2 linked regions of the Homo sapiens genome follow. The gene in region 2 interacts genetically with the main gene of each other region. Each region holds a gene or a part of one and is shown on either strand. Other genes may lie near its edges.

Region 1 (3,325 bases), on a different chromosome or scaffold from region 2:
GCCAGGCTGGTCTCAAACTCCTGGGCTCGGGCAATTCTCCTGCCTCGACCTTCCAAAGTGCTAGGATTACAGGCATGAGCTGCTGCGCTTGGCCCCTTTCTGATATTTTTTTTTTTTGAGATGGGTTCTCACTCTGTCACCTAGGCTGGAGTGAGTGCAGTGGCGAGATCTCAGCTCACTGCAACCTCCGACTCCTGGGTTCAAGCGATTCTCTTGCCTCAGCTTCCTGAGTAGCTGGGATTACAGGCACTCACCACCATGCCCAGTTCATTTTTGTGTTTTTAGTAGAGACAGGGTTTCACCATATTGGCCAGGCTGGTCCTGAACTCTTAACCCGCCTGCCTCAGCCTCCCAAGGTGCGGGGGTTACAGGCGTGAGCCACCATGCCCCTGGCCCCTTTCTGATGCTTGATCTGAGATCAGATTGCTTCTGTGGGAAACCAAAGAGCATTTAAATCTTACCCATTCAAAAATAACCCACTATTTTTAGGAGGACTCCCTAGAAGGGGTGCTTTTAGGCTCCCTGAGCAAGAAAAGGGCTTTTATCAACTCTCTAGAGGTAGTGAGTCAAGTGAGCTGGGCAAGTAAGTTGACCTCTGTATCTGCTTCCTCATCTGTAAAACGGGGCTGAGAATAGATATCTGGGAAATAATGTGCTCTTGAACTCTGGTTTTATCATATGCTGCCTCAACACTATTCAATCTTAATTATTCCCAAACTTTAACGTAGTGTTAAGCTGTTAGGTGGCAGGAGGGCACTGCTTTGAACAGAAGCAGGAAGTACCCTCAGCTGGGCTCTGGGGCTTTCAATTAGTTATTCCTCGACCAGGTGGTGTAGTGGTCTAGCTCATCAGCATTTTCTGTCAGTGGCTGCACGAATCTGGAAGCGTTTGCTAACGCCAGGGTAGCGCGCGCGCGCACACACACACACACACACACACACACACACACACACACACAGTCGAGATCACAAGCTCACTCAGGGGCTTAAGCAGAATCACCTCCAGCGAGGAGAGTGCAAACCGAGGCACAGGCCAATCCAAGTTATTGCTTTCACAGGTTTATAACTGCTGCTCTCACCTTTAAATAGGCCATCGTGAGGAGTGGCAATAAAGTAAATGGCACCAAATAGAGAAGGGCGGGCTGGGCGGCCCGGTGAATGCGAGACGCCACAGTAGCAGTGAGCAGGCCTGTGAGGAGAGAGAGGCATCTGTGAGACACGAGAGGGAACCCGTGTCACCTGGCTGCTGCTGGGCAAAGTCCTGCAACTGTACAGATCTAATGTGCTGTCGTCCATTCTATGGTTGGGGTGTGAAATGCCCAGCTTGGGCAGTTGAAGAAATGTGGATCAGCACAGCTTTAAAAAACACCTACAACTCCAAGGACACATGACTGACCCAAGTCTCACTCCTTGCTCAGGTTCCTGGGTTCAAACCCTCCTTCCAGCTCCAAGTGTGCCTCTGTCTCCTGTGATGCTGGACTTGGGAGGCAGAAGACCTGGGTTCAAGTTCCAACTCTGCTACTCACAATAGCTAACATAAATGTAGTTCAGACCTTCCACCTCTCTGAGCCTCAGCTTGCTCATCTGTCTAATGGGGATAATGCCACTTGCCTTGCCCCTCTGAGTTTGTGGACTGAAATGAACCCATGTGAATGAACTGCTGTGGGACGAGGACAGTGCTGGGGTTGAGGAGGACGTACGGAGTGCAAAAGCTCCTTTCCAGTCACTGTGCGGGAGCAGTTGCATGTGCGGGCAGGTTACTGCTTTTCCCAGCCCCATCACAATCATCTCCTGTCTGCCTACACATGAGCTGGCTACAAAACTTGGCCTAGGTCAGAGTGGCAGAAATGTAGAACTAATGAATGTAAGTAAGTATCTATTGAATAAAGTAGGAAATAAATACGACAGTCATTCAACTCTAGAGGAAGATTTAAGCACAGACTAATCCACTGCACTGTGTGCTGTGTGTCCTTGGCTTTGAGGACTGACCTGCTTTTCCTACAACGTTCTTCAGATACACAGCTGGAGAGGGAACTGGCCTATCCAGTACACAAAACACTTAGCATCTCACGGGCCAGGCTGTCTATTACAGCACCCAGAATTCCTGCTCTCCTTCCATCCAGTAACTGTAGCTAGAAGACCTGATTTAATTCCAAAGGTTGGAGGACAGCCAGAGCGAGGATCATCTGCAGTCTCTCTGGTTCTCTTACCTACAAAGTATCCGATGAGGGTGCAGTGAAAGTAGGAGACCTTCTGCATGCGCCCGGAGATGTTGGCAGGTCCAGGGGCCCCACAGGAGTCCCCACTGGCTTGCTTTTTGTAGTTGTCATAGCGAAGGACAAAGCATAGTAGGAGACCAGGCATAACGATGTCTCCGATGCCCAACATGGAGAAGTGGCTGCCAGTGGAGCTGGAATGCAGTTTCACAGGTTAGTGACGTCACACTCTACAATCCAGTTTCTATTCCTTTTGTGCAAAGTTTGTTAGCTTTTTAAGGAGTCAAAGAGCTTATCTGCATGGCAGATGGAAATCTCTTCTGATGGAACATTAGTTTTAAGAGTGTAGAGAGAAAAAGCTGCAACAGTACTGGCACTAGAGGTCTCCACCTTGGCCCCCCTGTTTCAGGAGAGCCCCTTGGAAGTGACTGCTGAAGTGATTTGCATAAGTGCTGCTTCCTCTAGAAATGTCAAACAATTCATCATTTGTGACACATTCACTGTTGAGACTTCAAATAAGCACCTGGCTACTATTACAGGTGGAAGATTAAAGCAGCACATTCATTCTGCCAAGATTATATTACCAGGAGTTGTATAATTCTACCATTAGAACTTATTTTTATAAATATCTTACAAGTTAAAAGGATCGAGATTCTCCTAACTCCCTCCAGCCAACTCTAAACAGTGGAAACAGCAGTAAGGCATGGCTGTTTGCTGACATTAATCAATAATAAAAGGCACCGCCTGGATCACTCAGTGATCCTTCTTGGCAAGCCAAGAATCTCATCCTCATTTCCTCTTCTGCAGCATGGAGATAATGGCCCCAGGTTGGGATCAGAATGCTGATGACATTAGAGACTGATCAAGGCCGGGAACAGATAGGCACAGGAAGACAGTGTGGTCCTGTCATAGCATGAGGTCTTACCTTGGGAAGACCAGTTTTCCAGGCAGAGACAGGCGAGGAACATCACGCCCAACATTGGGCCCCAGGTGGAGCTTCCGGGATAGAACGTCAAGGGGATTGTCAGCCGGCTGAGTGGCCACCTTCACCATGACGTTGCTATTGAAGATGTAGGCTGAGAAAAATACCTGCCGAGTTGGAGAGATGCC
Region 2 (3,651 bases):
CCTGAAAGGATGTGCTAGACAAATGCCCAGCGTTCCAGTGAAAGGACACCCAGTAGTCTTTTTTTGCCCATTACAAAGTCTGCCACGATTTTTCCTAACTGGCATAGCAGGAGGAAGAACAGGAGATGAGATTAGGGAAGAGGGTGAGACTCATGGAAGACACTGTGTGCCTCACCAAGGACTTGAACTGGATCCCAAGGACCTGGTGAACCAGTGGATATTTTAAAAAGTGTATGTGCTTGGAGGTGTCCAAGTTGCTGGTGATGGATGATGGGCAGAGAGCAAGAGTTGGCAGGGGCTCAAGGAAAGCCTGGGCTTCATGTGGATACCACCAGCCTGCCAACCCTCTCTCCCCCAAGGCTGAGAGGTGGAGCTGCTTCCTGCACTTCTACTCACACTCCTGAGACTCTGCCCTGGGAACCTCATTTCTTCTACTGTTTTACCACCCTGCTCTCATCGGTTTGTATAACATTGCTCATTTAAGGTGACACTATGTGTCAGCCAAAGAGCCCCTGATGGAAAAAGAATCTCAGAAAGCCCCAAGAATTTCCCCACAGTTCTGTCCCTCAAGTTGGTTCTGCCTCTTACAACCCTGGAGTGGGGTCAGTAGGGACTTACTGGGGCCCCTCACAGATTGTGTCTTTAGGTTTGGAGCCAGGCAGTCCAACAGTGTGTGTTGGAATGACTGCAGAACAGAGAGTATTTTGCACTGTCCTCAAACTCTGTATGATGAACTCAAGAAAAGCCCAGACCCCACAGGGCTGCCCCTGGAGTCAGATAACAGGTGGCAACTGAACTTGGGAATGAAGGCAGCAGGGCTTGCTGTTCTTCCAGTGCACCAGGCACCTCCTGCCCTCAGCGCCTTTACAGGTGTTGCTGCTGCCGAGGAGCCACAAGTCTTCCTGGCTTGCTCCTCACCTCCTTCGTCTTTACTCATGGCCACATTCTCTACTGTCCCTGGCCACTGCACATGATTTCAACACCCCAACCTGCTCTTCTCCCTCCCACCACTGCAAACCATCTCAACACCCCACCCAACCCCCTCACCTCCCCCGACACTACTGCAGACCATCTCAACACCCCAACCCATTCCTCTCCCTCCCCACCACTGCATACCATCTCAACACCCCAACCCACTCTTCTCCCTCCCCGCCACTGCAGACCATCTCAACACCCCAACCTGCTCCCCTCCCTCTCGTCACTGCAGACCATCTCAATACCCCAACCCATTCCTCTCCCTCGCACCGCTGCAGACCACCTCAACACCTCAACCCCCTCCTCTCCCTCCCTGCTTTCCTGTTTTTGGTGGCATTTACCACCTTCAAACCTATCACTTAATGTCTTTATTTTACTTAGTGTCTATTGTCACCCCCAGCTCCAGGTGTAAACTTCACAAGGCAGGAAGTTTTGTCTGTTGTGTTCACTGCTGTGTTCCCAGTCCCTAGAGGAGGGCTTGGCACAGAGCAGGTGTCCAGTGAGTACCTGTTGAAGGTATGAAGGTTGGAACCCAGACTCTGGAAGCAAAGGCCTGGCTTCTGAGAACCAGGTCAGACCCTGCTTTCTTCTGCCTCACTTTTCTTGTTTGTAAAATGGATGTGATCACAAGGCTGTTGTAGTACTGTAAAGAGGTCATGCTCATTAAAATATCCTGAGCTCTCTGGAGAAAGTTTCTGTGGTTGAGAAGCCAGTGTGCGTGCTGCTCCGTGGTGATGGGTGGCCACGTCCATACCTGAGACCCAATCCTGGCCACAGGACCATAAAGAGGAGGAAAGAAATGAAGTCACAGATAAGGAAAACATGGGGAAGAAACACTGCTACATCCTACTGGGAGGGAGGGTTCGAGAGTGGCAGGCCCAGGTGACTAGGGAAGGGAAGCCAGGCTAATGACAAGTGGAGCCAGGCCAGCATGATGGGACCATGGCTGACTGAGAAAGTGGTGCCATCTGTGGGGCCGGAGCTACTGCTCAGCTCCATTCTACAGCTGCCATGCAGGAACGCATGCCACGCTGTCAAATCTCCCTTTTCTTAGAGCAAGACAAGTGTCTAGTATAAACCAAAACATACCTGTGGGCCAGATGCCATCTAGAAGCCCCAGAGTGTAACCCCTGGTATAACCAATCCATAAGAGGTGAAGATTTTTAAAACCCTTATGCTTCAGAGCCTAGACAAGACCCAACCATGCGGGAAGACAGGTGAGAACTTGTTATTCGCCCCACCCCCTTCTACCAATTTCATTCTTTTATTGACCAATATTTGTGGAGCACCCGGCATTGGGACTATAGTTAGTGACACTGAAATGACCCCTGGGCTCGTGGAGCTCATAGTCTAGTGAGAGAAATGCTAATCCAGTGATTTCTTAAATGAACAGAAGAGCTTGAGTATTAAGTGCTAAGAAGGAGATGAAGGTACGCAATGCTGTGAGTGCCTGTGATAAATCTGAGCCTTCTCAGGGTTAGGCTGTGCCTATTGAGATTTGGAGGCACGGTGAGTATTGACTGGGTGAAAAGGAAGTGAAAAGACAGAGGAAGCAGCATGCACAAGGGCCTCCAGCAGCTCCAGGGCTCCAGCGTTGCCGTAGCAGAGAGCTGGCATTAGAGTAACAGGAGGTGAGGCTGACTTGTCAACAGGGCCTACACTATGCAGGGCCTTGTAGGCAGGTTGAAGATTTTTGCCTTTATCTTAACTACCAGGGGAAGCAAATGAAGTATTTAAGCAAGAAAATACAGTGAAGAGGCTGGACACAGTGGCTCACGCCTGTAATTCCAGCACTTTGGGAGGCTGAGGCAGGCAGATCGCTTGAGGTCAGGAGTTCGAGACCAGCCTGGCCAACATGGTGAAACCCTGTCTCTACTAAAAATACAAAAAAAAAAAAAAAATTAGCCAGGTGTGGTGGCAGGCACCTGTAATCCCAGTTACTTGGGAGGCTGAGGCAGCAGAATTGCTTGAACCCAGGAGGCGGAGATTGCGGTGAGCCGAGATCATGCCATTGCACTCCAGCCTGGGCAACAAGAGCAAAACTCCATCTCAAAAAAAAAAAAAAAACCAAAACGACAATATGGTGAGGATGTGATCATTTTTGCATTTTGGAATGATCATTCTTGATTGCCTTGGGAAGAATAGATTTTGGGGGAAGGTACAGAGCAGAAGTGGGAGACCAGTTTCGAAGTGGTTCGGTAGCCCGGGCCCTGTGGTGGCAGAGCCCTGCTTGCAACAGTTGGCGTTTCAGTCTCAGTCTGTGAGCTGCTGTGGGCAGCTGGGGGCACCCGTTGCACCCATCTGTTCCACTTAAGCTGCTGCTCTCTCCTGGAAGTGATCCCACAGCAAAGGGAAGCTCTGAAAGGTTGTTTCCTTTGCCTGCAGGGTGGAAGAGCAGGGGTCTGCTTGGTGGAGGGCTTTCAGCCCGGCTAGCAAGACTGTCCCTGCCTCTCCCAACTCGAACTGAAGGGGGTCCCTTTACTGTGTTGATCTGGGAGTGTGGCTGCAGGAACTGCTTGGGAAGGGTAAGGATTATTCATTTTGACAAGAGAGGGCCATGGATAGGTGATTCAGGGAGATAAAAATAAAGTCACCTGTTGGTAGAAGCTATAATAGCTAAAAAGGTATTTGTAGTTGCTTTATACTCAGGCTAGTGCAGTAGACTTCAGCAAAGCT

What was found.
Region 1: changes in RBM20 (region 2) and SPPL3 together harm fitness less than expected from each alone (positive genetic interaction), as found in Homo sapiens cells (one large-scale study listed by BioGRID).

What each region holds. Positions count from the first base shown.
Region 1 is NC_000012.12:120,765,185-120,768,509, forward strand, and holds part of SPPL3 (signal peptide peptidase-like 3), read right to left. Parts: intron 3,305-3,325; coding exon 3,141-3,304; intron 2,410-3,140; coding exon 2,210-2,409; intron 1,189-2,209; coding exon 1,079-1,188; intron 1-1,078.
Region 2 is NC_000010.11:110,815,266-110,818,916, forward strand, and holds part of RBM20 (RNA-binding protein 20), read left to right. Parts: intron 1-3,651. UniProt on the Homo sapiens protein: RNA-binding protein that acts as a regulator of mRNA splicing of a subset of genes encoding key structural proteins involved in cardiac development, such as TTN (Titin), CACNA1C, CAMK2D or PDLIM5/ENH.